Linked DNA regions of Homo sapiens: regions 2, 3, 4, 5 and 6 are each reported to be linked to region 1. The links are microRNA targets in miRTarBase. Many come from high-throughput screens and were not tested one by one. Region 1 holds a microRNA gene; each other region holds the end of a gene's coding sequence. Distances are from middle to middle.
Evidence for each region. The annotated mature microRNA hsa-miR-1468-3p reads AGCAAAAUAAGCAAAUGGAAAA and lies in region 1 at 2,771-2,792, shown strand. An mRNA with a match to its seed (bases 2 to 7 or 8) in the 3' UTR can be bound and repressed. Matches are read on the target gene's strand: a 7mer-m8 pairs with bases 2 to 8, a 7mer-A1 pairs with bases 2 to 7 and ends in A, and an 8mer does both.

Region 2: the mRNA of MMGT1 is a reported target of hsa-miR-1468-3p. Seed matches in the 3' UTR shown: 7mer-A1 at 1,076-1,082 and 7mer-A1 at 1,128-1,134.
Region 3: the mRNA of CGAS is a reported target of hsa-miR-1468-3p. Seed matches in the 3' UTR shown: 8mer at 3,265-3,272.
Region 4: miRTarBase lists CCNL1 as a target of hsa-miR-1468-3p. Seed matches in the 3' UTR shown: 7mer-A1 at 839-845.
Region 5: the mRNA of CCNL2 is a reported target of hsa-miR-1468-3p. Seed matches in the 3' UTR shown: 8mer at 1,017-1,024 and 8mer at 1,440-1,447.
Region 6: miRTarBase lists ZNF107 as a target of hsa-miR-1468-3p. Seed matches in the 3' UTR shown: 8mer at 2,773-2,780 and 7mer-A1 at 2,614-2,620.

The regions. Positions count from the first base shown.
Region 1 is chrX:63,783,729-63,788,803 of GRCh38, reverse strand. It overlaps MIR1468 (microRNA 1468), which reads left to right and starts at 2,717; the gene lies at 2,717-2,802. ARHGEF9 (Cdc42 guanine nucleotide exchange factor 9) reads left to right here and starts at 3,590. Exons shown (of 10, transcript NM_001353921.2): 1 at 3,590-3,688. The coding sequence starts at 3,659.
Region 2 is chrX:135,960,689-135,965,763 of GRCh38, reverse strand. It overlaps MMGT1 (membrane magnesium transporter 1), which reads left to right. Exons shown (of 4, transcript NM_173470.3): 4 at 581-5,075. The coding sequence ends at 740. Among named protein-coding and RNA genes, the nearest start is that of MMGT1, 11 kb to the left of the region's middle.
Region 3 is chr6:73,420,703-73,425,777 of GRCh38, forward strand. It overlaps CGAS (cyclic GMP-AMP synthase), which reads right to left. Exons shown (of 5, transcript NM_138441.3): 5 at 3,009-4,876. The coding sequence ends at 4,525. Among named protein-coding and RNA genes, the nearest start is that of DDX43, 28 kb to the left of the region's middle. RefSeq lists a silencer at 884-1,178.
Region 4 is chr3:157,143,833-157,148,907 of GRCh38, reverse strand. CCNL1 (cyclin L1) reads left to right here. Exons shown (of 11, transcript NM_020307.4): 11 at 319-1,355. The coding sequence ends at 667. Among named protein-coding and RNA genes, the nearest start is that of CCNL1, 14 kb to the left of the region's middle. RefSeq lists a silencer at 142-291.
Region 5 is chr1:1,382,737-1,387,811 of GRCh38, reverse strand. CCNL2 (cyclin L2) reads left to right here. Exons shown (of 11, transcript NM_030937.6): 10 at 1-35; 11 at 230-2,101. The coding sequence ends at 581. Among named protein-coding and RNA genes, the nearest start is that of AURKAIP1, 10 kb to the right of the region's middle. RefSeq lists an enhancer at 4,707-5,075.
Region 6 is chr7:64,707,935-64,713,009 of GRCh38, reverse strand. ZNF107 (zinc finger protein 107) reads right to left here. Exons shown (of 4, transcript NM_001282359.2): 4 at 1,433-5,075. The coding sequence ends at 4,354. Among named protein-coding and RNA genes, the nearest start is that of MIR6839, 31 kb to the right of the region's middle.

The sequences.
Region 1 (5,075 bases):
TTTTATCCCAGCTCAGCCACTAACTTACTTTGTGACTTTGGGAGCTCCTTCCATTCCCTGGGGCTATATCTTCTCATCAGTAAAATGAGACTGTTGGAGGAAATAATCTTTACAATTATTAAGGCCAACTCTGATATCTATGGATCAGTGATTCTTTAACACTCTTAGGTACACAATTAGTGTGTTCATTGTATGACTGGAGAACCTGAGTCACAGATAAGCTGGGACATGACTGTCTTTCTCTTCATTTTGCTCATGGCCCTCTACTAGAGTGGAGAGCTGGTGCCTGGCTAGGTACCAAAGAGGCTTCTGGGAGATCACAGGACTTCAAGAGAGTGAACACAGAGATTATGGAAACCCCTTTTCCAGATTTCTATTGTCCTGTCCTGAATTCTTACTGGCTTCCAGGCCCTGTGCTAAGTACTTTCCTTGGACAAATTTATCAAATCTTTGTAACTATCTTGTCAGCCCTATTCACAGATAAAGAAACTGTCAGGGCATAGAACATTGAATAATCTGCCCAAGTAAGTGGCAAAGCCAATAACTGAATACAATCCAAGTTGTTCTGACTTCAGAGATTATGCCCTACCAACTACATTATGTCTCCTCTAACTACTCATATGGTTCTAGGCAAATAGGTGCTCAAGACATAATGACTGGATTCAACAGCATCTATTTACACCTCTGGGATCAACACGTTTTTTGCAGGAGTCTCTAGGCACCTGTTTTTTGCAGGAGTCCCTAGGCTTTATATTAACACTGGCCTGTTTGCATCCAGATCCATTCTCCACTCTTCTCCTGAAAATTACATTTGTTAGATTTCCTTGCTTTCTCACTTCTTTTGTCCAATGGGAGACATGTACAGGAGATTGGTGGCTAGGAGGAAGGGAGAACCCAGGGTATTTCTCCCACCACCTGTATCAGAGAGGTGTTTTCTGGTGGTAGCTGTATTCCTCCATGGCTCCAGCTCCTCTTGAACAACTCTTCCATTCATGGCACCTGCTTCCAATAGGCTGTCCAACCCATGATTTTAGCTTCTGCATGGCTTCATCTGTTATCCGTCCATCCCTACGAGTGGTAGCAGCTTTCTGTGTTTGTTAAATGCTAGGTTGCTGCATCCTCATCCTCTGTCTGGCTTGTTAGCTCTGTAAGTGTCATGCATTAAATGCTCGCAGTTTAAAAGACCTAGGGTGGTTTTTATTTTCCTGATTGGACCATGACCGGCACAGATACTTTCCACAATTCCAGGGCTACTCACATCACATAAATTGGTTTATATCCTTCAGAGCACATATTACAATCTCTAAATATTTTTGTTTGTTTACTTATTTATTGTCTATCTCTCTTCTGTAAGTAGATTGTAAGGTCCATGAGGAACTTTGTCTTGTATCCTGAGCATCTGTCACAATGCCTGGCACACAGGGGCTAAATGATAATGTTGAATGAATGCATCCATCAAAAAATTCCAAGTTTTTATTGGGTATTTACTATGTGCCAGTCACTGTTGTAGAAGATGCAGAAATTAGTAATTCATTGCCACTGCTTCAAAAACACATAATGCCATTTAAGTGAAAGGGGACAGTAAAATGTTCATATGACCATTGTGTTAGTTCGCTAGGGCTGTGCCATAACAAAATACCACAGACTCTGTGGCTTAAACAACAGAAATTGAGTTTCTTATAATCCTGGAGGCCAGAAGTCTGAGAACAAGGTATCAGTGGGGTTGGGTCTTCTGAGGCCTCTCTCCTTGGCTTGCTGTTTAGATGACTGTCTTCTCCGAGTCATCAGATTCTGAGGTACTGGAAGGACTTCAACATATAAATTTTGGGGGAAAACAATTCAGCCCGTAACATCCAGGAAATAAAAAGATCATTTTTAATCGAGACAGTGAAATCGTAGTGCTATAGGAATCAAATGAAAGATGACAAAATCAGGGCCTGGAGGTATTCCTGGAAAGCTTTCTAAAGGTGGTGTGCCTGGTGCCAGATCTTGAACAGTCATGACAGTTTGAATGGGCTGGTTGGCAGGGGAGGTGCATCCAAGATACTGAGCATGAAAGAAGGCCCAGAGATGGGAAAGTGAGAGAACATTGTGGAATCACTGATGCCTGGGTTACCAGACTTGGGAGGGAAGTTGAAAGGTCATCCAGGGCAACCTCCCATTTGATTCAGGAATCCCTTGCCAAAGGGTCATTCAGCTTCTGCTTGTACACCTCCCATGATGGGGTGCTCATTAAGGTACTGCTTCTATCTTTGCCCAGCTCTGCATGGACAAAACAACAGGTTGGATGAAGTGCAGAAGTTGTGCTAAAAAGAAGAGGACAAATAAAGTACGTGTAACAGGCCAGTGATGTCTTCATGTCAATTATCTCCAGGAACTTCTTTCTAATATCATACTGTAACTCCTTTTACTTTGGTTGCAACCTCTGTTTTTGCAATTCTGTCTTTGCCTGACCTGCTCTTCTAGTCAGGAGCCTTGGATTCTTGTCTTGTTTGGCTGTGCTACTTTAAGCAGAAGTCTTTCAATCTCTGGGCTTCAGTGTTCAAGTCTGTAATGGTGGGCAATTAAGAATCCTTGTTGTGTCCATCTCATAGAGTTACTGTGAGGATTATAAGGGATAATAACAGATGTTAGTGTGACTGACAAAGTCAATTTTTAGCCTAAGCAAAGGTACCAGCCTGTGTTGTGTTCCCCAGAGTTGGGGGAATCATAAAGAGGTGGGTGGTTTCTCCGTTTGCCTGTTTCGCTGATGTGCATTCAACTCATTCTCAGCAAAATAAGCAAATGGAAAATTCGTCCATCAACAAGCTACCTTTCATGTTCCTAAGGGCATGAAGGAGAAGCCTGGAGTGGTGTGTGTGAGATAGAAAGGGAGAGATAGCCGAAAGAGGCTTGGAAAGCCGCAGAGGGTAAAGTCGAGGATTTATCTTTTTTTTTTCTTTAATGTGACCTTATGCCCCTTCCCTCTTCCAAACCTCCATTTATTTATCTATAACTTGGAGATACTAATGGCTGCCTCTACAGGGTTGTTCTGAGAAGTGAAAGTAATGCAGATGAAAGCTCTCAGATAGTACACAAAGAGAGAAGACCCTAGGGGAGTATGCAGAGGGAGGGTGGGGGAGGGAGGCATGAGAGTGCTGGCTTGGCTCCACTGGGGCAGGATCTTATTATTCTGGAGATTGGCACAACACCTCTGGTAACTTTGGAAAGGACTTTCCGCTGACTCGACACAATTGGGAAGCCCCACAATAAACAGCATCTAACTCCAGCGCAGCGGGAGGCAGGCAGAGGTAGCAGCTGCCTTCTCCTGGGCGGGCGGAGGCTATTCGCCCCCATCCTCTCCCTGCACCCCACCCCCACAGTTCTCAAGCCTTGGTGGGGGACAAAAGCAGCCCATTAGGACCCCCCCACACTCGCACCTCTCCCTGCCAAGACCTCTAGGAGCAGCAGGGCGGAGAGACAGAGCCTGCCGGTTGGCATGGAACAAACTGACTGAAGGCGAGGTCCGGGGCGGAGGGGATTGGGTTGTAGGGCTGTGGAGGAGGGGCGGCGGAGGGGGCGCTGGGGCTCTCGCTTGCTTCAGCCCAGCCCTTCTAGTCAGCCCGCGACAACTCGCGCCAGCTACGGGGCCTCAGAGAAGCCGGACTTCGCAAGCACCATGCAGTGGATAAGGGGCGGATCGGGAATGGTGAGTGCATGTAACCTTGGCTTCCCTTGCTTGAGCCTCTCAGTCCCCCAGCCCCACCTCCAGTTCCTCCAACGAGCCACAAGGCAGTGAGCACCCTGGCCTCTGCCCACCGCCCTAGCCGCCGTCCTTGAGACACCAGTGAGCTTGCTGTGGCCATTTTAGGAGTCCCTGCTAGCCTGCCTGCCCAGGAAACCCCCCTACCATCCCCCTCCACTTTTCTATCTCCCTCTGAGATTAAGGTGGAATAGGGGTGGGGGCCAGATTATGTGCCCAGGAACATCCCAGGGGTCACTTGGGAGGCCAGAGAGGGAAGGGGGATGGCAGAGGGCTTCTCTGGAAGCAGTGAAGCTCGCAGGAGGCTGACAAGCTGGCACGGGGTTGTGGGGGGAGGGGACGGTCACAAAGCCTGGAATTGTGGAGGGGGCCTTATGGGAGAGCTGCATGACTCCCCCCTGCCCCCAACTAGATTTTCTGCAACTCCTTTCCCTGGTCAGCCCCAGAGCATGAGGGCCAGAGAGCCACTCTCTCTCTCTCAGGAAGCTGCCTGAGGGAGCCCTAAAGCCCTTCCTTGTCCGGGCTGGGGTCACCCTGTCCACACTTGGGGCTTTGTCAAGGAGAGACAGCTGCAGAAACCCACATTCTGGAAATGGGCTTGGGCCACAGTCAGTTAACAGAGCTCTTCTCTCCCTCCCAAGGAGTGTGTGCTTGTGTGTGTGTTTAGTATAATCCTCCAACAGTTCATTTTATGCCATGGTGTTCCCTTCTCCACCTGGAGACCTTGGAATGACTTCCTTTTGCAGAGAGGAAGTGGTGGCTGCATTTTGATGCCTCTCTGACTTAGCCAGGAGCAGCTTAAGCCTGGTTAGGGCCTCTGGGGAGTGGGAGGCCCCCATGACTTTGTCCTCAGCTGGGAGGCATAAGCAAAAGGGCCTTAGAAGGCAGTTAGGTTGGGTCAGCAGGCACTGATGGCAATAGCCCACACTTCTACGCTGCCACCCATAACCCGCAGATGAAGGAAAGTAGCCTGAAGTGGTTGGGCAAAAACTGATATTTAACTCCATTTTTGCTTTCATTGTGGAGGGGAAGAGGGAATCTGGTGTGGGCTAGGACTATATTCAGAGGGGCTGTCCTCTTCCCTTCCTCAGAGTTTTGTTAGATCTCTGTTTCAGTGGTTCTTAAGGGCATCCGGTTCATATGCCTATGTGCTGGGGCTTCAAAAGACCCTTCTTCCCAGACCTCCCTACTTCCCTGAGGTCCCATTAAAGCTGCATCAAATGTTTGTAGAACCAGAAAAGATTAGAGCAGGTAAAGACCTTAGAGTCCTTGCTGTCCAGCCAGGAAAGCTGGGATCCAGAGAGTGGGAGAGACTTGCCCAGGACCACAAACT
Region 2 (5,075 bases), 72 Mb from region 1:
ATTTGTGTTGTTATTCATAGGCATTCTGGAAGGAATGGCTGGATAAAAAAAAATATTAGAAGCCGGGCATCATGGCTCATACCTGTAATCTCAGCTCTTTGGGAGGCTGAGGTAGGAGAATTGCTTGATCCTAGGAGTCTGAGACCACCTGGGCAACATTGGGAGACCCTGTCTCTACAAAAAATAATAATAAAAGAAAGCCATGTGTGGTGGTGCGCATCTGTAGTGCCAGCACTTGGGGGGCTGAGATGAGAGGGTCGCTTGAGTCCAGGAGTTTGAGGCTGCAGTGAGCTATGATTGTGCTACTGCACTCCAGCCTGGGCAACAGAATGAGACCCTATCTCTATTTTTTTTAAAAAGAAGAAATTTGAGAGCTATATGCTGCTTTTCCAGGTTTCTTATTTTCTTTATATAGGAAAAGAGATACAGTATAATTATTATTTACAGTCTGATTTCATGTATTAATACTTGTTAAAAAATATAACCCATAGTAAATTGATAATTCGTTAGAAGCCTACTTATTTTCAAGTAGGGTTTTATAAAGGTTTATCTAAAATTGATGCTTTTTTCTTCTTTCAAGGACATTTGATACGTTAAGGAATCACCCATCCTTTTATGTATTTAATCATCGTGGTCGAGTACTTTTCCGGCCTTCGGATACAGCAAATTCTTCAAACCAAGATGCATTGTCCTCTAACACATCATTGAAGTTACGAAAACTCGAATCACTGCGTCGTTAAGATTTTTACAAATTATAATAATAGGACAGGACACAGAGCTGGAATATTGGAGTTTGGGGTATAAAACACTCCTCCCTGCCCCCATTAGTATTTATATTGATCTTTCAGACCTACTTTAGTAAAAAAAACCATGGCCCTTGTTTATATACTGTTAATCCAATCATTAATGCAGTGTAAGTTATATGTGAAATGAGTCTTTGGTATTTCATATAGGAATTATTTTTTTTTTCATTTAAAACAAATCCACATCTTTTGTAAAAGCCACTGTTTTGAACACATTTCCTTGAAAAATGTTGGTGGTTTTTGTGATTATTTATTTTTTTAGATTTCTTTTCTTTTGCACTACAATTTTTGGAATCCTTTTGGAAATACTGTGTGACTGCTGTGTTTTGCAGCATGAATTATAGTAAAATGGTCTTCAATTCTTAACAAATGGACTTCCCTGATGAGACCAAAATGGTGATTTAACAGTTTTTCTTGTGTCCCCTAAAAAGTGGCTCTGCTTCAGAAGTACTTGCCAGTTTTTAATTTATTTGTGACTTTTCACCCTACCCTGCTCCCATATACCTTCTACCATCAGCTGTCTTGTTTCATCATTTCTCTGAGATTCTGTGTGCAGTGAGCAATTTTTGTGTCAGAAATTCTTTGTCAGAACAAATATATGTAACAGGCTCAACTTACTGTAAAGCTACTTGTGTTCTCTTCATTTGTCTGTAAAAATTTCCCTAATTGATTATATAGTGTAAGAATAGTTGAAGACTAGTTGAAGACCTTTTGTGATTTCATTATCATGCCTATGCAGAAGAAAAATCATTGAGGAAAATTGTCATTAGCCAGTTTAACTGATTCAAACTCTGTTTATTTCATACTAAACTAGTGAATAAGTGAAATAAAGGAAACTCGTCATTAATCTAAAGACAGAGTTCAAAGGAATTGGGCCAAATATATTCTCAGTATTTGGAACTAATGTTTTTAAGGTTTTTAGGAAAATCAGGTCATTTAAGAAATTGTTTTGTAGTTTCTGGTTTATAGCAGTCTTCAAGTTTTCCATCTTCACTGTATGTTGCTGAAAGTGAGGATGAGGATACAGAGTTGATATTTTTAGAAACAGTAATTTTACTTTTAAGGAAATTGGCTAGCTCTTTGAGCTAGAGAGCTGTAGGAAGCTCAACATTTCTTTGTAGAGAACGTTGCTTTTTTTGGATTGTACAGGTATAAAAACATTGCTTTTGTTGAATTGTATAGGTGTAAAAAGGGAATAACTGTATGCAGGTTTGAAAAGGAAATGTGCTTTAGGCATGAGTCATAAGATGCCATTGTACTTGTAGGCATTTTATTTTCCTTTAGAAATGGACATCAGCTCTTCTCTTCTGACTGGTAACACATAGCCCCAAAGCATGAGATTATTTTTCATTGGGTTTTTATTGTTGTTTAGTTTTGGTTTGTTACGCCAGCCCAGTCTGTCTGCGGAACACTGACTCTGCTCTCTAATGAGAACAAAGTTAGAAATCTGCCGATAACCTAAAATAATTTAGAAATGAATTAAAAATGTGAAATCGGGTTAAAGTGATGATGATAAAATAGCATGCAAGAAACAAGCTCCTTCCATCAGACTTGGCTACTGTTTTCTTCTGGTACGATTTGGTTTGGAAGAGCCTCTTGTTTCCTTCTCTTTGGGGTATGTCTTCGTTTCTTAATATGTTTGTAACATTATTGAGATATAATTCACATACCTTACAATTCACTTATTTTAAGGGTACAATTTAGTGGTTTTTAGTGTATTCACAAAGTTGTGTAACCGTGACCACAGTCAATTTTAGAACATTTCGTTACCCCAAAAAGAAACCCTGTACCCTTGAGCAGTCACCTCTCATTTTCTCCCAGTGCCCACCCCATCCCCGAGCCCCTGGCAACCACTAATCTATTTCTCTCTCTGTAGATTTGCTTATTCTGGTCATTTCATATAAATGGAATTCTACAATATTCGGTCTTTTGGGACTGGCTTCCCAAATATGATTTTCTATATGGAGTGAGAAAATTCTTCTCATCTTGAGAACTCTTATTGCTGTGAAAGGGAGTGGTTGGTAAAATCAATAGATTTCAGGCAAGAGGGCCAGATACCTAACAGGTTTTTCTCCGTGAATCTTATGCTGAGTAGTTTTTCCTCATAACCAAGCATTTATGATATATTACTACTTATAATACTGTGGCTAGTCTCTAGAATGGATGTTGAAATCTTTGCCTCCTCAGTCGGGAAGAGTCCTGCTAAAAATCAGGCTAAAAATCAGGCCAAAAATCAGGCCAAATGACTTGGCAAATAATTGACAAAGTGGTTTTCACGTGTGTCTATCTTTGCTAGCAGCTTGTATACCTCAGGCCAGGTGAGCTCCCCAAATTTCTTTTTTCATTTACTCCAGTGAGTTTCTGCTGTCTTTTTCAAGTATGTACCATAGGACTTAAAGGTGATTTGGATGCGTTGTAACACTGCTAAATATGCTAAGTACAGAATTTTATCTACAGTACTGTGAGACAGTCAATTATTGCCTAGGGTAGTTCAAAAATATGATGTGAGCTAGTTAAGCCTTTGCTTGACTGATTTCAGTGATATTCAGAAGTGTGTACCAATCAAGGCTCTTTAAAATACGGAACGACTCACTTAATAACCAGGGAACCAGCCAAATACTGTGCAGCCGCAGAATATGCATATCAATGAGTTGGAGGTGATTATTCTCTGTAACTCCCTAATGATTGTTTTCTAAGCATTGTGGCTTCTCAGTGGCTTGACAGCATCTTCCTGGTTGTATGTGGCCTGTTTACATGATGTATTGAATAATGTTGTTTGTTGTGAGCATCAATGCCTGTAACACCAAACTAAACACGTGTTTTTGGGATATGTTTCCAATCTTTAAATGACCTTGCCCTGTCCAATAAATAAATGATTGTCTCACCCTGTTTTTGGTAGTGTTTTTTGGGCTTTTTTTTTTTGGACTTTTAATCTCATTTCTTCTGCTTTTCTGTCCCCAGAAAAATGTAAGAGCTAATTTTATGACTGTATTTTTCTACTGTGATGCTGTTTTACTGAATTCAATGGATAATTTAATTGTACATGTAAAATCTTACTGCAGTTTTATGTTTTTAATAGTCAAAATAGAATGTATAATCTTGATGATGTTTATAAATCATCAAATGCCCTTTGGGGTGTAAAAATGGGTTCTTGAGCAGCAGTGTCTAATGATTCCATCACAAATTTGTTATAAAGCCAAACTCCCATTGAAAGTGTCACTTTATACTTAATAGGAAATCGTTATGATTAAAGCATCAAGGAAGCAAATATAAAGTTTAATGAAAATCCAAGGGGAAGTTCTAAATTGCAAAACTTGGCACTTATCTACAGTATTTTGAAAAATAACACCACCGGTATTCAAACCTACCTAGGAATATCTCAAAATAACCTGTTAATTAAGTGTTCTTAGAAAGGGGAGTGGGGGCAAGAAAGATGATGTATGCACATGGCGAAAAGATCAGATGGTACAGAAAGGTATAAAAACTTGGTCCCTTCCCTCCTACCCTAATACTCCTCTCCAAAAGTAACCAGTTTCAAGTGTCTTGTACTCACAGGAAAACAATTTTTTATTTTTTATCAGCAAATTTGTACTTTAAAAATTTCACATTAATAGAATCAGACTATATATACTCTTCTGTACCTTGCTTTTTTTGCTACCTGTGTTTTATGAGATCTTTCTGTATCAGTATATATAAAAATACCTCATTATTTTTAGCGGCTGTGTGGTATTCTAATGTTTGAATGTGTTACAAATGTTCAAACACTGATAGGCTCTTTAGGTTGTTTCCAATATTAAATCACATTGTGGTGAATATACTTGTACATATAATGAGTTTTTATTCTACAGTGTACCTAGCAATACAATTGCTGGATCAGAGGGTATTTTTTATTTTCAGTTCAGTAGTTACTGCCAAATTGTCCTCTAGAAATCTTTGCCCAGTATGCTTCCACATATAATGTATGAGAATGATTATTTACCAAACCCATGCCAATACTGGGTACTAAACTTTTGAAGTCTGATCATGTGAAAGTGAATAAATGGTATCTTGCGTTTTAATGAAGTTCTAATGCATTTTAATGAAGGTCTGGTACATTTTAATGAAGGAGATGGAACACATTTTCATGTTTATTGATTACTGATATTTCCTGTGAAATGTGTAGTCATGTTCTGTTTTCTATTAGGTGGTATGTGTTTTATTGATTTGTATGAGCTTTTTGTAAGCTAAGAAAATTGGTCCATTGTCATGTTTAATAATATTTTCCTAAGTTTT
Region 3 (5,075 bases), not on the chromosome of region 1:
GTCTCTACTAAAAATACAAAAAATTAGGTGGGCGTGGTGGTGGGTGCCTGTAATCCCAGCTACTTGGGAGGCTAAGGCAGGAGAATCGCTTGAACTCGGGAGGCGGAGGTTGCAGTGAGCCAAGATCGCGCCACTGCACTCCAGCCTGGGTGACAGAGCAAGACTCCGTCTCAAAAAAATAAATAAATAAATAACAACAATAATAAAATTTTTTATTATTTTTAATTTAATTAATTTATTTAGAGATGGAATTTCGCTCTTGTTGCCCAGGCTGGACTGCAATGGCACAATCTCGGCTCACTGCAACCTCTGCCTCCCAGGTTCAAGCAATTCTTCTGCCTCAGCCTTCCTGAGTAGCTGGGATTACAGGCATGCGCCACCACACCCGGCCAATTTTGTATTTTTAGTAGAGACGGGGTTTCTCCATGTTGATCAGGCTGGTCTTGAACTCCTGACCTCAGGTGATCCGCCCGCCTCGTCCTCCCAAAGTGCTGGGATTACAGGCATGAGCCATGGCACCCAGCCATAAAATTTATTTTTTATATTCTACTAATAAATGCTGTTGTACTTGGGCATGATCAATCATATAACTGTCATTTTTTGGTTTTATGCTGTTTTGGTTTGGTTTTTGCCAACTATATTCACATTTACAAACTAACTAAATAAAATCATTTTATTTAAAAAAAAAAGTAGTCCCGAACCCTTCCACCCTTCATTTTCCACTCCCAAGATGTAACCTTTTCATCTTTTAGCCATTAATAACTTGCTTATACTGCAATTTCTTGGTTTTAAAAATTTGACATTTACTGACTTCCCACTATAAGGAAGATTAATTCAGTTTTTGCATACCTGTGACAGTCGGACCCTCAGGGTTGTCCTGTGGCCCCCCACCTCCTGAGGTTCATATCTATGTAGTAAGGAATTTAACCTAACCCAAAGAAAAGTCTCACCTTTGCCCTTGGCTTCTGAAAGGTAATGGCTGAATTCTTGGAATGTGCCAGAAAGTATAACAATGTGATTTATGGTGGGGTCTTTGGGTCATGGTATCAGCTTATACTGTTTGCCTTCCAGAGGAGCTGGAGACTGAGGTTAGACATATGTCCAGCCAACCATGAGCTGCAGTAAGAACTCTGGACATGGCTCAGGTGAGCTTCCCTGGCTGGCAATATTCTGCGTGTATTGGCACACATTGATGCCAAGAGAATAACATGTCCATGACTCCACCAAAAGACAACAGAAAGTGCTGTGTTTGCTACTCTCTTAAACTCTGCCTTACGCACTTCTTCCTTTGGCTGATTTAAACTTGCATGCTTACTATATAATAAACTGCAACCATGAGCATAGTGGTTTTAGTGAGTTCTGTGAGTCTTTCATCAAACCTCAGGGTGGTTTTAGGAATCCCTTGAAATTGCAATTGTTGACAGAAATGAGGGTGGTCTTATGGGAACTGTTTTCCCCCTAACTGTATCGCTGGCATCTGAGACAACAAGAACACCCTTGAGTGATTCCTCTCCTCTTGGGTATGAGAGGGACCTTTGACTTGCTTCCAATCAATAGAATACAGTACAGGCAACGGACTGTACATAATTATGTGTATGTAATTGTGTTAAACAAGTTTGTAGCACTCCTCTTGCTGGAGTACCTCCCTTGCTGGCTTTGAAGAATCGAGCTACTGTTGTGGGCTGCCTATGTTGGGAGGCTCACATGGTAAGGAACTGAAGACAGCTTCTAGGAACTGAGGGCAACCTCTGGCTGACAGCAAGAAACTGAAGCCCTCAGTCCTACAAATGTAAAGGAACTAAATTCTGCCAACAAAAATGGTTCCTTCTCCAGTCAAGCCTCAGATGAGGCTACAGCGCTGGCTGACGTCTTAATTATAGCCTTGAGAGACTCTGAGCAGAGCCACACCCAGAATTTTGGCCCACTGAAAATGTGAGATAATAAATATGTGTTGTTTTAAGCCTCTAAGGTTGTGGTTAATTGTTACACAGGAAACTAATGTAATCTCCCTACCACTGTCACCATACAGGAACTAAGCCTATTGTCCTATCCTAACCACAGAGTGGGTAATCATAATTTCTTTCTTTCTTTTCACATTAAAAAAGTTTTTTTTTAATTTTTTTTTTTTTTTTGAGATGGAGTCTCGCTCTGTCACCAGGCTGGAGTGCAGCGGCACTGTCTTGGCTCACTGCAACCTCTGCCTCCTGGGTTCAAGCGATTCTCCTGCCTCAGCCTCCCAAGTAGCTGGGATTACAGGCACGTACCACCATACTCATCTAATTTTTGTATTTTTAGTAGAGATGAGGTTTCACCATGTTGGCCAGGCTGGTCTTGAACTCCTGACCTCATGATCTGCCCGCCTTGGCCTCCCAAAGTGCTGGAATTACAGGGGTGAGCCACCGCCCCTGGTTTTTAATTTTTTTAAAGTCGACAACAGTCCATAACTTCAATAAGATTAATAGTCAATGGTTACATTACTATGACTTTGTCAATACTTAAACAGCTGAGCAATATTCTTATATCAGACTTTTCTTTCATGCATTCATTTTTCTTATGGAGTTAAAAATTGCTTAGATTGGCTGGGCACAGTGCTCACATCTGTAATCTTAGCACTTTGGGAGGCTGAGATGGGTGTATCACCTGAGGTCAGGAGTTTGAGACCAGCTTGACCAACATGGTGAAACTCTGTCTCTACTAAAAATACAAAAATAATTAGCCAGGCATGGTGGCGTGCAACTGTAGTCCCAGCTACTTGGGAGGCTGAGGCAGGAGAATTGCTTGAACCGGGAGGAGGAGGGTGCAGTGAGCCAAGATCGTGCCACTGCACTCCAGCCTGGGCGACAGAGTGAGACTGTCCCAAAAAAAAAAAAAATTGCTTAGATTATTTTATTTGCATAGTGGTTTATTTATCATTAATTGTCCCCAAAACTCTTCAAATGTCTAATGTTTCTCTTAGTATGTTCAAACATAGTAGGCTGTTAAACAAGATGTATAAAGCAAAAACCATAAAAAATTCAACTCCAATTTATTCTCAAAAGCTTGAATGAGAAAAGAAATCAACTCCATTAAAATTTAAAAATCTTTACAATAAACAAAACAATACAAAACAAAAAAACCTTGTTTACTAAAAGACACCAAAAAATGTGCAGACAACCCATATGGCAGAAGTTATTTGTTACACAGACAACGAATGAAAGATAAATACCCCAAATATATTAAGAACTTCCCAAAACAATGAGAAGAAAACTAACCCATAAGAAAATGTGCAAAATATATGAACAGGAAATATTTAACAAACAGCAGTTGCCTCTAGGCTGAATGCTACCTAAAATAAAAAAAGTGTTACTGAAAGTAAAAATAAATAGATAACAGAAAATAAGTTAGGTTTTACATTTAGTCACGTATATTAAAATAAAGTATCTTATGTTTTCTTTTAAGATTATGTATTTCAGCCAGGCGTGGTGGCTCACACCTGTAATCCCAGCACTTTGGGAGGCCAAGGCGGGCGGATCACAAGGTAAGGAGATCGAGACCATCCTGGCTAACATGGTGAAACCCCATCTTTACTAAAAATACAAAAAATTAGCCGGATGTGGTGGCGGGCACCTGTAGTCCCAGCTACTCGGAAGGCTGAGGCAGGAGAATGGCATGAACCCAGGAAGCAGAGCTTGCAGTGAGCCAAGATCATGCCACTGGACTCCAGCCTGGGCGACAGAGCGAGACTCCATCTAAAAAAAAAAAAAAAAAATTATGTATTTCCTGGCCAGGCACGGCGGAGAGCTGTTTTTCAGTAAGAACTTGATGAATTTAATTAAGGCAATATGTACTTTATCTTTTTTTATTCCAACCTAAAAATGTCATTTATTTATTTATTTGCCTGCATGATAAAGCAAACATGGTAATGTTTTTAGATTTCAAATACTACTTTTGCTTCTTATTCCTTGACTAATCTTTTTCCTAGGATAGTCAATCCTTTATACTGATTAGAGTTTATTACAACAAACTGAAAACTGAATAATTATTTACATTCATTTTAGTCAATTATTGCTGTGACAAATTTCAAACATTCCAATTATTACAGTCACTAATTTTTGTTATTTTGTTGCTTTTCTAAAAAATTATTTTAATAATTTCCTAATTTATTTTTCTTATTTATTTATTTATTTTTTGAGAGGAAGTCTTGCTCTGTCACCCAGGATGGAGTGCAGTGGTGCCATCTTGACTCACTGCAACCTCCACCTCCTGGGTTCAAGTGATTCTCATGTCTAAGCCTCCCGAGTAGCTGGGATTACAGGCATGCATCACCATGCCCGGCTAATTTTTATATTTTTAGTAGAGATGGAGTTTCACCATGTTGGTCAGGCTGGTCTCAAACTCCTGACCTCAAGTGATCCGCCTGCCTCGGCCTCCAAAGAGCTGGGATTACAGGTGTGAGCCACAGCGTCTGGCCCCTTTTCAAATTTTTCTTGTATTCTCCAGGATTTAGGGTGACTCTAGTTCTTAGATCTTTCTAAAAATACAATCTCAAAATTCATCAAAAACTGGAAACTCATTGTTTCTTTCATATTCAATTTGCTTTGTCAGAAATTCCTTACTTCTTTTGTCAATTAAGTTGCTAGAGAATAGATTGAATTCAGGAATAAAATAATTCTCAAGTTTTTCTGTCCTGAGGCACTGAAGAAAGTATGTCACGCAGTTATCAAAGCAGAGGCCCAGGTCTTTGCGGTCCCACTGACTGTCTTGAGGGTTCTGGGTACATACGTGAAAGAAGGCAGTTTTCACATGATAAGAAGAGAATTTATCCAGATGTTTTTTGTCTTTAAACCTTTCTTTCAGCTGTTCTAAAAGGTATTTCATTAGTTTTAAACAATCTTTCCTGTTGAATAAAAAAGGAAAACACTTATTTTTACTTATTTACATTCAACAAAGGATTTTAGGCATCTCATAGCAAAAATATAAACAATAAAGATATATAATAACATAAATATAGGCCGGGCGTGGTGACACAACGCCTGTAATCCCAGCACTTTGGGAGGCTGAGGCAGGGGGATCACCTAAGATCAAGAGTTTGAGTC
Region 4 (5,075 bases), not on the chromosome of region 1:
ATTAGATTGTTAGCTCTTCGTGGCTCTTCAATGTCTTTTGAACATGTGGGAGATACTTAATAAAAAGCATAGCTCTAGGACACTATAAAAATTGCTAATTACTCCCCTTGGAATAAAGACATAAGAACATTTGCTTAAGATTTAATATGTTATATATAGGCTTGGGCATACAGCAGTGAGGGGTGGGGAGATTTTGAAAAGTTCTGGTTTGTCATTTATGTAGCTGGTAGTTTTGTTTTGAACCTGTTATGAGCAACCACCGGAATAATCTGTTCCCCATAGAAACTGAACCTAAACTTCAAATTTTTATTATCTAAGCTATAATAATAGGCGGAGTCGATCTGGAACATACAGCTCGAGATCAAGAAGCAGGTCCCGCAGTCACAGTGAAAGCCCTCGAAGACATCATAATCATGGTTCTCCTCACCTTAAGGCCAAGCATACCAGAGATGATTTAAAAAGTTCAAACAGACATGGTCATAAAAGGAAAAAATCTCGTTCTCGATCTCAGAGCAAGTCTCGGGATCACTCAGATGCAGCCAAGAAACACAGGCATGAAAGGGGACATCATAGGGACAGGCGTGAACGATCTCGCTCCTTTGAGAGGTCCCATAAAAGCAAGCACCATGGTGGCAGTCGCTCAGGACATGGCAGGCACAGGCGCTGACTTTCTCTTCCTTTGAGCCTGCATCAGTTCTTGGTTTTGCCTATCTACAGTGTGATGTATGGACTCAATCAAAAACATTAAACGCAAACTGATTAGGATTTGATTTCTTGAAACCCTCTAGGTCTCTAGAACACTGAGGACAGTTTCTTTTGAAAAGAACTATGTTAATTTTTTTGCACATTAAAATGCCCTAGCAGTATCTAATTAAAAACCATGGTCAGGTTCAATTGTACTTTATTATAGTTGTGTATTGTTTATTGCTATAAGAACTGGAGCGTGAATTCTGTAAAAATGTATCTTATTTTTATACAGATAAAATTGCAGACACTGTTCTATTTAAGTGGTTATTTGTTTAAATGATGGTGAATACTTTCTTAACACTGGTTTGTCTGCATGTGTAAAGATTTTTACAAGGAAATAAAATACAAATCTTGTTTTTTCTAAACTGCTTCAAATACCTTATTTAAATAAATTATTAAAAAGGAAAATTTTAATAGCAAAATGGCTGTACTGGTTTTCTGACAAACTTATTCTTTCCTCCATTAGATGGTAGTTTGAGATTATTAAAATGCAATTCTTAACTGCATTGTGAGCTATTGTAAGTCTTCACTGTATATATGGAAAAAGTAAATGGGAGTCGCCCAACAATGTGACATTAAATGTTATATTTTAGCACTAAACCAAAAAACCTGATTTGCTTTTGAATGGTGTCATAAGGTAATTTTGAGTCAGATTTAAGTACTATTTCTGAAATGAGGTACCCTATTGAATGAACCAAAACTTAGTAACTATTGAGCTTTAACAGTTCTGTATAATTTAGGCATTTAATGTTACGATTTTTACGTAGGCTAGGAGAAAATGTGAGGCCCCTGAACTTGAGTGGTTGATAGAATACAAGCTGATCACAAAGAAGTGAAGTTTTGATGAAAAAGCCGGAATTTCTATCCAGATGAATGTTTTCAAGTTACTCACATTTACTATTTTTTTCAACATTTTGGAAATCAGTTTACAGAGTCAAAATGTTGCATCGCTTTATAATTACACTAAGGTCTCCATTACATTTATTTTACCTACTTTAATTGTCCACTAGACTTGGCTCCAAGTGATTTGTTGCTGTTTCAAGAAATAAAATACACCCACAAAGAGGAAGATGTATTACTGCTAAGGATATTTTTAAAAATAAAGTTACAGCTTCTGAAGAGGAGATTCCAAAGACTTAAAATGTGTTCACCAATGGCAGGTGGTGGAGGCTGGAAAAAATAGCTTCACAAGGCAACTACTTTGAAGGAGATTAAGATTCATTAGGATATAAAAGTGTTGGGTGTGCTACTTAAATCAGTTATAGTTCTAACTATAAAGACTAACCAGAAACTAACAAGACCCAGCAAAAGTTAGCCACTTCATGCTTGAAAGAGGGTAGATAGTTCATTAAGACTTCTTTCTGCCTGATTTGTAATACACATTGCTGAATTATAAATAGATATTTCTGAAAAGCTAACTGCTTCTAAATGCTGAACAGTTTGCTTCCCCTACAAGATAGACATTGAAGAAAGGCAAAGGCAAATGTCAGCAAAGGCCCTGTTAGCAAATTAATGTTGATTTTTTTTTTTAACTTTTTTTTTTTTTTTTTTAGAGACGAGGTCTTGCTACGTTGCCCAGGTCGGTCACGAACTCCTGGCCTCAAGTGATCCTCCCACCTCAGCCTCCCAAGTATTAAATTCTTAATAGTGTTGAAATTACTTATGTCCCTAATCTTTGCTTGGAAATAGGAGTGCTGTGGGTGAGGGTTGTTTGTGAAGATGGGGAGTTGTGGAGGATACACCTGCATGTGGAATGAGGTTTGTATGTTAAAGGTGTTTTTAGAGGTGGCTTTGTGGGCTAGGCAAAGATCTTTTTCAGGGTCTTGATTTTTATCTTATTGTCTGTTACTGAATCCGTTTTCTAAGTTGTCAGGATGTTAACCTCATGCCACTCTATGGCTATTTAAACACTTTCTCTAGAAGTAATACTCATTTTCAAACTTATTTTGAGAAACAAAGTTGTGCAATACCAATAATACCTGTTTATTAACTCCAAAATAGCAAAACTTAATCTGTACCCCACCAGTTCACCACTCCACCTCCCACCCTTGCTATTGGGAAGAAAATCCCATACAAGTAAAGTTTGTTCCCAAGTGTCTCAGTCCACAAGGTTGAGGATTTTTAAAACATAACCATATAGCTTTATTGTAAGAGTTAAAAGTAATGCCATACTACCCCTGTCAGTATCCAGAGAGCCCTCATCTCTAATTTGTTTTAACTGATTTGTTCAAAGTCCAAATATGTTGCATCGGCTTTAACCACAGGCCTCTCCATATTTCTTACTTGAAGAAATTGGGTCATGTCCTGAAGAATTTTTTGTCTCCTGGGTTTGTTCATTGTAACTCTGTGCTGTCACTGAACACATTTTTCTGTCCACTGTGTGGTAAAGTGGTAGATCTTGAGGCTTGATCAGATTTAGGTTTAATTTTTTTACTTGTCTGGAATTAGAAGCCTGGACACCCAGACTGTTATTTTAGAACTGAAAACTAGGTTGCTGCCTCATCCACCAGGTATTTTACTGAGTTCTCAGTTCTTATCCATTGGTGCTTGTACCTCACTGGCTTTTGTATCTGTTTTTCCCTCTGTTCTCTGTCTCATGTTTTGGTTGGCCCATTACAGCAATGAAAATGTTATTTGTCCTAATGATCCTGATACTTTTTTTCTTTAAATGACCCACAAATTAAATCCCGTTTTGGTTTTTTTTTTTTTTTTTTTTTTTTTTTGAGATGAAGTCTCGCTCTGTCTCCCAGGCTGGAGTGCAGTGGCACGATCTCGGGTTACTGCAAGCTCCCACTCCCAGGTTCATGCCATTCTCCTGCCTCAGCCTCCTGAGTAGCTGGGAATACAGGCGCCTGCCACCACGCCCTGGCTAATTTTTTTGTGTTTTTAGTAGAGACGGGGTTTCACCTATGTTAGCCAGGATGGCCTCGATCTCCTTACCTTGTGATCCACCTGCCTTGCCTCCCAAAGGGCTGGGATTACAGGCATGAGCCACCGCGCCCGGCAAAATCCTGATTTTTAGTACAAGTCCTTTCATGTTATAGAACATTACATTTGTCCTTTGCAGCTGGTATCTTTAGTTTAAAGACCAGTGAAATTCTTAACCATGTTCCCATTTTAAAACAAAGCGAACATAAAAATGACTAATTCTTAGAACTGAAGTTCTAGGTTTTGCTTTAATAGCTTTTAAGTATTGCCACTTATAACCCCATTATTAACACCACAGTCTGCATCAAAAGCTTACTTAAAACATTTAGTTTTCATGAGAGTTTCCAAAAATAATATCATAACAATCATTTGTTCTAAGAGCCATTTCTTAACTCATCATGAACTGTAATAGATTATGAAGATAAGTTTCAAAATTTACATACCAGATTTTTTAAAATGAAGTTAAAAGCATGGACATATTGAGGGTCTTATGCATGGGCATACTGAAGGGTTTGGAGAGACAGAATGTGCATGAGGTTTGAGAAGGGGAGCATCACTTCCCTATGTGGAAATAGGAACGGAGCAGCGTTCATTGTGTGGGCCTTGAGCCCCTCATCCCTTTCACTCTAAGGCTGGAAGCCACAGCCTGATGTTCTAACCATTTGAACACTTAACATTTGTTCAAAGCCTGGCTTTGTAATCATTTGAACATTCCATTACATGGAAGGAACATGGACTTCATGTCAGCTCTGCATTTTAAATCATTCCTCCACAGTGACTTGACAAGTTATTTTACCTCTTGTCTACTGGCCCTTACAACATTTTGTGTAGTATATGTGTTGGGCAAATAGGATTTATTTTTACCATTGCAATCCAGACTTCATATTGGAACGCACTCAAATATTCAGAAGTTTGAATTCTACCACTCTCAAACACAGTTCAAAAGATAGCTGTTTGAGAATGCTTCTTAACTAATACTAGTACAATATCTTCAATAATGTATGTACCTTATAGAAAATCTTGAACAGTACAAGATTTTCATAATTAAGGCATGCAAAACTGCTTGGGCTCTTTGATTCCAGGTGTCCTCTTCTCCCTTCTGCTTTTGCCATCTATGTTCAATATAATTCTAACCCAGTCTAAGTATGGAGAAAATTCCTACCCTGCCTGCTTTTATAGCTCATCAAATTTCCCTGTATCAGCTATCACTTTTCTGGTAGGTGTAGTCTGATTTCTGTCTGTCATGCCTTTGCCACAATCCTTTCTTTGAAGAGTAGGTAAAATGATCTATTTAAAGTGTTAATCACATTGCTCTAATATATAAAGCCTCCAGTGGTTTCCCATATCACTCTGTAAAATGCCCCTTGCCAGCCTCTCCCATCAACCTCGCTTTTTCTGTT
Region 5 (5,075 bases), not on the chromosome of region 1:
AGGTCCCCATCCCGATCAGCGTCTCCTAAGAGGAGGTGTGTGCCTCAGGGCGCACCCAGGAGGCCGATACCGGGGTGGGGCTGTCCCTCGGGGTAATCATTCTCACCCTGAGGTGGTTTCTTGTTTCTCTAAACCTGGAGCTTGTGTGTCTTGTCTGAGCTCCTGTGGGTGTGTGGGGCCTGGCCGGGCCAGATGGTCACACGTGTGGTGGTGCTGTTCTTCCTCCCAGGAAAAGTGACAGCGGCTCCACATCTGGTGGGTCCAAGTCGCAGAGCCGCTCCCGGAGCAGGAGTGACTCCCCACCGAGACAGGCCCCCCGCAGCGCTCCCTACAAAGGCTCTGAGATTCGGGGCTCCCGGAAGTCCAAGGACTGCAAGTACCCCCAGAAGCCACACAAGTCTCGGAGCCGGAGTTCTTCCCGTTCTCGAAGCAGGTCACGGGAGCGGGCGGATAATCCGGGAAAATACAAGAAGAAAAGTCATTACTACAGAGATCAGCGACGAGAGCGCTCGAGGTCGTATGAACGCACAGGCCGTCGCTATGAGCGGGACCACCCTGGGCACAGCAGGCATCGGAGGTGAGGCGGGGTTGCAGTGACTGGTGGCCGCAAGCCCTTCCCTGGGGAGTACCTGATGGCTGCCCTTTGACCCCCGGTGGCTGCCCTTTGACCCCCGGGTGTGCTCTCAGCGCAAGTGGTCCTAGAACAGGATTCTTTTTGGAAATGTCTGTCGACTGGACCTTGGTGGATTTGGAAATGGAACTGAGGGACCGGTGACACGTGCTTCAGACCGGTCTGGGGTGCGGCGCACACCTGGGCCCGTGCAGGGCTCAGCTCGGCAGCAGCTCTGAGGGCAGCTCAATGAAAAAGTGAATGCACACGCCCTTGTTGGCGTGGCCTGGCATGGCCTGGTGCTATCGGCAGCCGCTCTCCACTCCCCGACTGATACTCAATTACGTGAAGCCAAGAAAGATGATTTTTAGAACCTTTGCCTATATTAGGTTGTACTTATGTACATATTTTGCAGTGTTTCACAGGAGAAAGTGGCCTTAACTGCCCCTTATTCTCTCTCCACGTTGTAAATAAACATGTGTTTAATACAAGTTAAAGCTATGTATGAAAACTCAGAACTTGAATCCCGTCAGCTTAAAACTTGTGTAGGGAATCCTGACTTTTAAAATGTGAGGGTATTTGGATCTGTGTTGAAAGTCGTATATTTTTATCTGTGCGGTGCTGAGTGCAGGCCACCAGCTCCTAAATAGAGGTTCCCTATATGCGCGTATGACATGGTGAATAAACACAACTCTCTCCACTCAGGACATCCGGAGCGTTATGGACGTGGTAGGTGGTCGTTCTGTGTGCTTGTGAAAGTGTCCAGGCGTGTGCACAGCCAGTGCGCCCACTTCCGGGCTCCTTGCTCCCTGCTGTACTGAAGTTTTGGATTTTGCATCCAATCCTGTGTGCCTGCCCTTCTGCCGAAGGCTTGTGAGGGGCCTGAGTCCTCTGCCCATCAGGATGACAGGCTCCTTCCTGCAGGGCCATAGGAGGGAAGTTTTGGAAACACAGAATGATTCCAAGGTGCTCTCGTTCCTGAGGGGGACTGGTTTGTAACCCATGACATCTGTGGGCGAGAGAGGCAGCTGGGAGCAGGACACTTGGAGGGTCACCCCACGGGGGTGGCACCTGCACTCTGAGTGCCCCCCACTGTCATCAGCTGCCTCTTACCGTGGACACAGTTTTGGTTTTGGGGACTAGGGGGCCCCACTCCTGGTGGTACCGTTTGGACTTACTAGGGCAGTGGGACATATAGGCCGGGGCTAGTGGGATAACGGGGAGTTACGCCTGATGACTTTTTTGATGGAATCCTGCATTAGATAGCTGGTGGGACCCCCCCTCAGAATTGGGGAACTGAGGAGACTCCAGGGAGGGTGTCCTTCCAGGGAGAGCAGCTATGAGGGGCCCCCTAGCTTCCTGTGCCTGGAAGTAAGAGAACCAGTAAAGGGCCATACACACCTGTACCCAAGAGACCGCTCTCCATTTGCTTTCTTTTTTTACTAAATAATTGTAAAATATTATTATGACATAAAGAACCATTTAAGGCCAGATTTTATGTTCTCCTAATTTGCATTGCGCCCAAATGGTGTTGCAGTAGAAAATGAGTTTTGGCCGCGTGGTGGGAGGCCGGGCGCGGTGGCTCAGGCCTGTAATCCCAGCGCCGTGGGAGGCCGGGCGCGGTGGCTCAGGCCTGTAATCCCAGCGCCGTGGGAGGCCGGGCGCGGTGGCTCACGCCTGTAATCCCAGCGCTGTGGGAGGCCGGGCGAGGTGGCTCACGCCTGTAATCCCAGCGCTGTGGGAGGCCGGGCGCGGTGGCTCATGCCTGTAATCCCAGTGCTGTTGGGAGACCGGGTGCTGTGGCTTACGCCTGTAATCCCAGCACTGTGGGAGGCTGAGGCAGGCGGATCACGAAGTCAGGAGATTGAAACCATCCTGGCCAACATGGTGAAACACTGTCTCTACTAAAAATACAAAAATTAGCTGGGTGTGGTGCTGCGTCCCTGTAATCCCAGCTACTCAGGAGGCTGAGGCAGGAGAATCACTTGAACCCGGGAGGCAGAGATTGCAATGAGTTGAGTTGGCGCCATTGCACTCCAGTCTGGCGACAGAGCAAGACTCCATCTCAAAAAAAGAAAAAGCTGTTACCAAAAGCTATAATTTTAGGTTTTAGGGCAGTAAGCAAGAAAAGGCAAGACCAAGAGTCCGCTAGGGTGGGCCTCCAACCTACAATCTTAGAAGAAATGTCAGTGCCAAAACCGTGGGCCATCCAGAGGGTGACCAATAGCACCAAATGCCAAAACCCTGGGGTTCCCAAGTGTTGGCCAATGAGGGTGCACACAACAAATGCCAGAAACCCCAGAGCAGGTGGAAGGCAGCCAACAGTGTACCCCAAAGGCCAAGCTGGGGCCACAGAACGTGACTCTGGCATCTCAGGGTCAACACAACAGGACCTCTCACGGCCAAGTGTCCTGCCTTAAACAGTTGCCCTAATGCAGTTACTGGGGAGTAAGAGCAAAAACCATGAATGAAGCATACATTTCAGGACAGAAAATAAAATGGGCTGGGCACGGTGGCTCACACCTGTAATCCCAGCACTGTGGGAGGCTGAGGTGGGTGGATTGCTTGAGCTCAGGAGTTTGAGACCAGTCTGGGCAAAATAGTGAAACCCCATCTCTACTAAAGATGCCAAAAAAAAAAAAAAAAGGGCTGGGTGCAGTGGCACACTGACGCCTGTAATCCCAACACTGTGGGAGGCCAAGGTGGGTAGATCATGAGGTCAGGAGATCGAGACCATCCTGGCCAATGCGGTGAAACCCCGTCTCTACTTAAAATACAAAAATTAGCCGGGTGTGGTGGCACATGCCTGTAGTCTCAGCAACTCAGGAGGCTGAGGCAGGAGAATCGCTTGAACCCAGAAGGCAGAGCTTGCAGTGAGACGAGATTGCGCCACTGCACTCCAGCCTGGGCAACGGAGCGAGACTCCGTCTCAAAAAAAAAAAAAAAAAAAAACAAGGGAGTGAGCAAGAGGCAGGGAGATGGGAGAATGGAGGCGACTGGCAGTGGAGGCAACATGAGACAGCAAGACGTGCCGCGGTGGGCGATCAACGCTGCCACACGAACCAGAGGCTCTTTTCAGAACCATCCTCTTTTCTGGCCTGTGGTGGAGCCGAGCAGTGGGCGACGGCCACAGCACCGCCACCTCCTGTGAGATCTGTGCTCCGGCCAGGTCCCAAGTCCAAGGGCCTGTTCCCTCACGGCAGCCAAGCAGTGGATTTGGATACCCCATTGCTTGGCCACCCTGGACAGAACCACATCCTTCTCCCCTTCTCTTGGTTGATTCTCCTCTAACCCCAATTTATTTTTGTCAGCCATTTTACTTTATTTCTGAGACAGTCTCACTCTTATCATCCAGGCTGGAGTGCAATGGCACTCCCGAGTAGCTGGGACTACAGGCACCTGCTACCACACCCAGCTAATTTTTTGTATTTTCAGTAGAGACAGGGTTTCGCTGTGTTAGCCAGGATGGTCTCCATCTCCTGACCTCGCGATCCTCCCGCCTCAGCCTCCCAAAGTGCTGGGATTACAGGCGTCAGCCACTGCGCCCGGCCTCCTTGCTATCTTTGTCCTTTCATGACCACCAGATGATCCGTGGCCAGCAAGCCCCCAAATTAGGGCTTAGCCCATGAGGGTTCTTGTCTTCACCCAGGGAAGAATGCAGGTGGTAGTAGACAGCAATCTTTTTTTTTTTCTTTTTTTTAATCGGAGATGGAGTCTCACTTTGTTACACAGGCTGGAGTGCAGTGGCACAATCACAGTTCACTGCAACCTCTGTCTCCCAGGCTCAAACAGTCCTCCCTCCTCACCCTCCCTCTTGCTGGTGGACATTGTGGGTGTCCACTACTGCACCTGGCCCACAGCAATCCAACAGTCTTGCTCTGTCGCCTGGGCTGGAGTGCAGTGCTGCAATCTCAGCTGATTGCAACTTCCTCCTCCTGGGTTCAAGAGATTCTCCTGCCTCAGCCTCCCGAGTAGCTGGGATTACAGGCGTCTGCCACCATGCCTGGCTAATTTTGGTATTTTTAGTAGAGATGGGGTTTCACCATGTTGGCCAGGCTGATCTTGAATTCCTGACCTCAGGTGATCCGCCCACTTTGGCCTGTGCTGGGATTACAGGCGTGAGCAACTGCACCTGGCCCTCAGCATTCCTTTTATTGAACTGGAGCTGGTTCTCATGGGGCAAGGATAATGCCTAGACAGGGGGCCCAGAGCTGCACTTGAGGGCTGTTGACAACTGTATTTATATGCACATTTACTTACATTAAATTAAGGGGTGAGTTACAGGACTTTCTGCGAAAGAGGTGGTAACGTCTGGATTGTTACTGGATTGTTTTGAAAGGGGTGGTAACGTCTGGATTGTTACTGGATTGTTGGAAAAGTGTGGTGACCTCTGGATTGTTACCAGATTGTTTGGAAAGGGGTGGTGACCTCTGGATTGTTACTGGATTGTTGGGAAGGGGTGGTG
Region 6 (5,075 bases), not on the chromosome of region 1:
TAATCTGAAAGTTATATTGATAAGCAAACTCTCTAGTTATAACCAATTTTTCAGTGCATTAAAAAATACCAACTTTCTCATCAAAGCCTACAAAGTACCATGTGAATTGACATGGCATGAAGACAACAGTGAGAAAACTGTGGCAATAACACAGAAAAAGAAGGACTGTGTTGAATACACTGAAGACACATAAGATAAACAAAACTGAAGATAATTAGGAAATTAAAAAAAAAACAGCAAGATTCAGCTTTGCAGCCTGAAAAAAAATGTTCTCTCCACATAAAAAATCAATGTTAGTTCTTCACTATTAATATTTTCCATCTCTGACTTGAAGTTAGTTACAAACTAACACCAGCAGAAATACATATGGCTCATTATGGAGCATCTGTTACACCATAAGCAATGTCATGTTTGTTTGCTACATCTATATATAAAAACATTTTCATGACTTATGAAGTCTTTCTAGTTCTTACCTGAACTAGCTCAATAAATAAATTTACTTATGTCACCTATAACAAGACAAAAGAATACTAACTAAAGAAAAGTAGGCTTATATAGGATTCTACAATGGAAAGAAGAAATAGAATGTTCTAAATAAAATATAATACACAAATTTTGGAAACACATCTAGAAGTTATTTTGTGTGTACTCCTAAACTTTATAAAAATCATTCTTATAATCCATGACCAGCTCACATGATGAATACCTGATAAATTATAAAAGAAAAACGCATAAGTAACAAGAAAATTAAAGGTGTAGCATGAGTATCACGCAAGTATAAACAAAAACTTTGCATGGGGAGATTCTAAATCGTAAGCCAGATTTTACAGAAATGAATTCAATGCAAAGCAGAGGGTATAGATTTGCTTTCAGCATTTTTGAGGTTTTCAGTTGTCTAGTAAATTAGTCACCTTTTAAAAATTATTAGTTTTGGCCGGGCGCGGTGGCTCACGCCTGTAATCCCAGCACTTTGGGTGGCCGAGGCGGGCGGATCACGAGGTCAGGAGATTAAGACCATCCTGGCTAATGCGGTGAAACCCTGTCTCTACTAAAAATACAAAAAAATTAGCCGGGCGTGGTGCTGGGCGCCTGTAGTCCCAGCAACTCGGGAGGCTGAGGCAGGAGAATGGCGTGAACCCGGGAAGCGGAGCTTGCAGTGAGCCGAGATCGCACCACTGCACTCCAAGCCTGGGCGACAGAGCAAGACTCCGTCTCGAAAAAAAAAAAGATTAGTTTTGTTCCAATATTGCTCGTCTTCTGAAAATAGGTACAAGCTAATACACAAACACACTTACTTGCTCCATAATTTTCTCATACCTAAGGTTCATTTTTAGAGTAATATATGTGTATAGTTAAGTGTATGTAAATCAAAACTAAAATGCTGTATGTTTGCAGGCAGAGAGGTCACATGTTCAAAGAAAAATATATAACATTTTTTAAATGTTTATTCAGAACTCAGAATTTTCTCATGGTTTATTTATACTTGTATATAATTTTTATTATAACCATAAAATGACCCTGTAGTAACGACTGTACATTCTAAAGTATCTAAAAGTGCAGAATTGGTTTGTAATACAAAGGAGAAATGCTGGAGTTGATGGATACATCTTTTGCCCTGATGTGATTAATACATAAAATTATATGCCTGTATCAAAATATGCCATACATGGCATAAAGATATACACATACTATGTATCCACAAAAATTAAGAGAAATAAGTTTAAATTTTAAAAAGAATAAAAATCTAACCTATGGGAACAATATTCTTTATTAGCAGTTTAAAGTCACTAGCAAAAATAATTATTAGAGATGTTAGCCCATTATGTTATCAAGTAGTATACTGTTACCCTCTTTTACCTAAACCCTTGAGTAATGTGGGATAGGTAAAGTCAGTGGCATGAAAACACTTCATTGAATGCACAATAGTTTTAACATGTTAAAAAAAGTTTAATTAAAAAACTAAGTTCACGCATAATCCAAAAATTTTTAAACACATTGCATTTTATTACATAAAAGTACAAATAGTAAAATGATATACTACTAATTCACTTTAATTTTAACTAAGATTAAAAATGGTTTTCTCTTACTATAATGCAGAAGAATATTGCTCTGAAAACCTACTTCATGGATCACTCAATATTATAAGTTAAACACAAACAGCCTCTTCACTCAGGTTTTCATCATGCATCTTACATTTTAATGTCCTTATTCTTTCATAGAAAGTGTCATAAATAATACCGACCTAACAGAAATGATTTCTCATATCTTTGATGCATGAAAAATTAATCACATGCTTTCACATGTGAATACAATAGGAATGAAGAGCATGAATTTGAGTTGAATTACATCATTTGCTTTTCAAAAACTAATTTTTCAAGAAAAAATATAATTTGAATGTAATTATACATCTACAAAAAAATTCTACTTCTTTTAAAGTTATATACACATTATTTACCTACCAACTTTAGTTTTAAATTATTTTCTATACTCAGCATTCTGATTCTATACTCAGCAATGTCTGAAGTGTCAGTACCTTAGATATTTCTACTGTGAATTCTCTGATATTTATATAGACTTAATTTTGGATTAAATTATTTTTATATTTACTTCACTTGCAAAAATATATTTTAGTATGAGGCCTCTGGTATTTTCTAAGCTGTAGTTTTTTAAAAAATGTTTTCACAAATGCATTACATTTACAGTGCTTTTCTCCAATATAAATTTTCTGGTGTTGAACAACATTTGAGCAACTGCTTCATGGTTTTCCTCTAGTGCAAAATGGGTACAAAAGTATCTGTGATACAAGTAAAGGTACTACAACCCTCTTCGTATTTGTATTGTTTGTCCTCACAATGAATACTCTTTTTTTGTTTTGTTTTTGAGACGAAGTTTTTGCTCTTGTTGCTTTGGCTGGAGTGTAGTGGTGTGATTTCAGCTCACTGCAATCTTCGCCTCCCAGGTTTGAGCAATTCTCCTGCTTCAGCCTCCCAATTAGCTGGGATTACAGGGGCCTGCCACCACACGCAGCTAATTTTTGTAAAATTTTTAATAGAGATGGGGTTTTGCTATGTTGGCCAGGCTGGTCTCAGACTCCTGCCCTCAGGTGATCCACCCACCTTGGCCTCCCAAAGTGCTGGCATTACAGATGTGAGCCAGCACAACTGGCTCCTCTTCTTCACTTTAAAGGCTTATATTTTCTGAAAGATCTCTTGACAAAAATTGCATTTATAATGCTTTTATTACGTACTAACTCTCTAATGTTGAGTAAAATCTGAGCAGATAATAATGGCTTTTCCACATTCCTTGTATTTGTACAATCTTTCTGAAGTATAAATGCTTTCCTGTGCAATAAGGGGTGAGCATTTATTAAAAGTGTTGCCACATTTTTTACACTTCCAGGAGTTTTCTTCAGTATGGATTCTTACCTACAATCAAGTGTGACAACCATTTAAAGGCTTTGTGATATTTTTCACATTTCTAGGATTTTTCACCAGTATGATTTATGTTAGAAAGTTCGAGGTGTTGTCAAAATTATTGTCACATCATTCAGGTTTGTAAAGTTTTCAGTATTATCTTATGTTTAGTGAGGTTTGAGGATTGGTTTAAAGTATTGCCACATTATTCACATTTGCAGGGTTTCTCTCAAAGTATAAACTGTCTTATATGTAGCAAGGTGTGAGGACCAGTTAAAGGCATTGCCACGTTTTTTACATTTGTAGGGTTTCTTTCCAGTATAAATACTCTTACATGTAGTAAGAGTTGAGAATCAGTTAAAAGCTTTGCCACAGACTTCACATTTGTAGGGTTTCTTTCCAGTATGAATTTTCTTATCTACAGTTAAGGGTTAAGGAAGGTTAAAAGCTTTGCCACATTCTTCACAATTGTAGGCTTTCTCTCCAGTATGAATTTCTGTATAGTAAGGTATGAGGATTGGTTAAAAGCTTTGCCACATTCTTCACAACTATAGAGTTCCTCTCCAGTATAAATTATCTTATGTGTAGAAAGGTGTGAGGACTGATTAAAGGCATTGCCACATTCTTCTCATTTGTATGGCTTTTCTCCAGTATGAATTACCTTATGTTTAGTAAAAGTTGAGGATCAGTTAAAGGATTTGCCACATTTTTCACATTTGTAGGATTCTCTCCAGTACGAATTTTCTCAACTTTCAGTAAGGTTTGAAGATTAGTTAAAAGCTGTGCCACATTCTTTACATTGTAAGGTTTCTCACCAGTATAAAATACCTCGTGTGTGCAGAAAAAGTTGAAGACTTGTTAAAGGCTTTAACACATTCTTCACATTTGTAGTTTCTCTCCAGTATGAATTTTCCTATGTGTAGTAAGCTTGTAGGATCAATTAAGTTTTGCCATACTCACATTTGTAGGGTTTCTCTCCAGTATGAATTTTCTTATGTGTAGTAAGATTTGAGGATAGGTTGAAAGCTCTGCCATAATCTCCACATTTGTAGGGTTTCTCTCCAGTATGAATTATCTTATGTATATTAAGAGATGAGAACTGGTTAAAGGATTTGCCACATTCTTCACATTTGTAGGGTTTCTCTGAAGTATGAATTTTCTTATGTGTAGTAAGGTTTGAGGATTGGTTAAAAGCTTTGCCACATTCTTCACATTTATAGGGTTTCTCTCCAGTATGAATTTTCTTATGTGCAGTAAGGGTTGAGGATAGGTTAAAAGCTTTGCCACATTCTTTACATTTGTAAGGTTTCTCTCCAGTATGAATTATCTTATGTCTATTAAGGGTTGAGGAGCAGTTAAAGGCTTTGCCACATTCTGCACATTGGTAAGGTTTCTCTCCCGTATGAATTCTCTTATGTATAGTTAGGTTTGAGAATCGGTTATAAGCTTTTCCACATTCTTCACATTTGTGGGGTTTCTCTCCAGTATAAATTATCTTATGGTTAGTAATGTTTGAGAATAGGTTAAAAGCTTTTCCATGTTCTTCAAATTTGTAGAGGTTCTCTCCAGTATGAATTATCTTTTGTGTAGTAAGGTTTGAGGACTGGTTAAAAACTTTGCCATGTTCTTCACATTTGTAGGGTTTCTCTCCAGTATGAATAA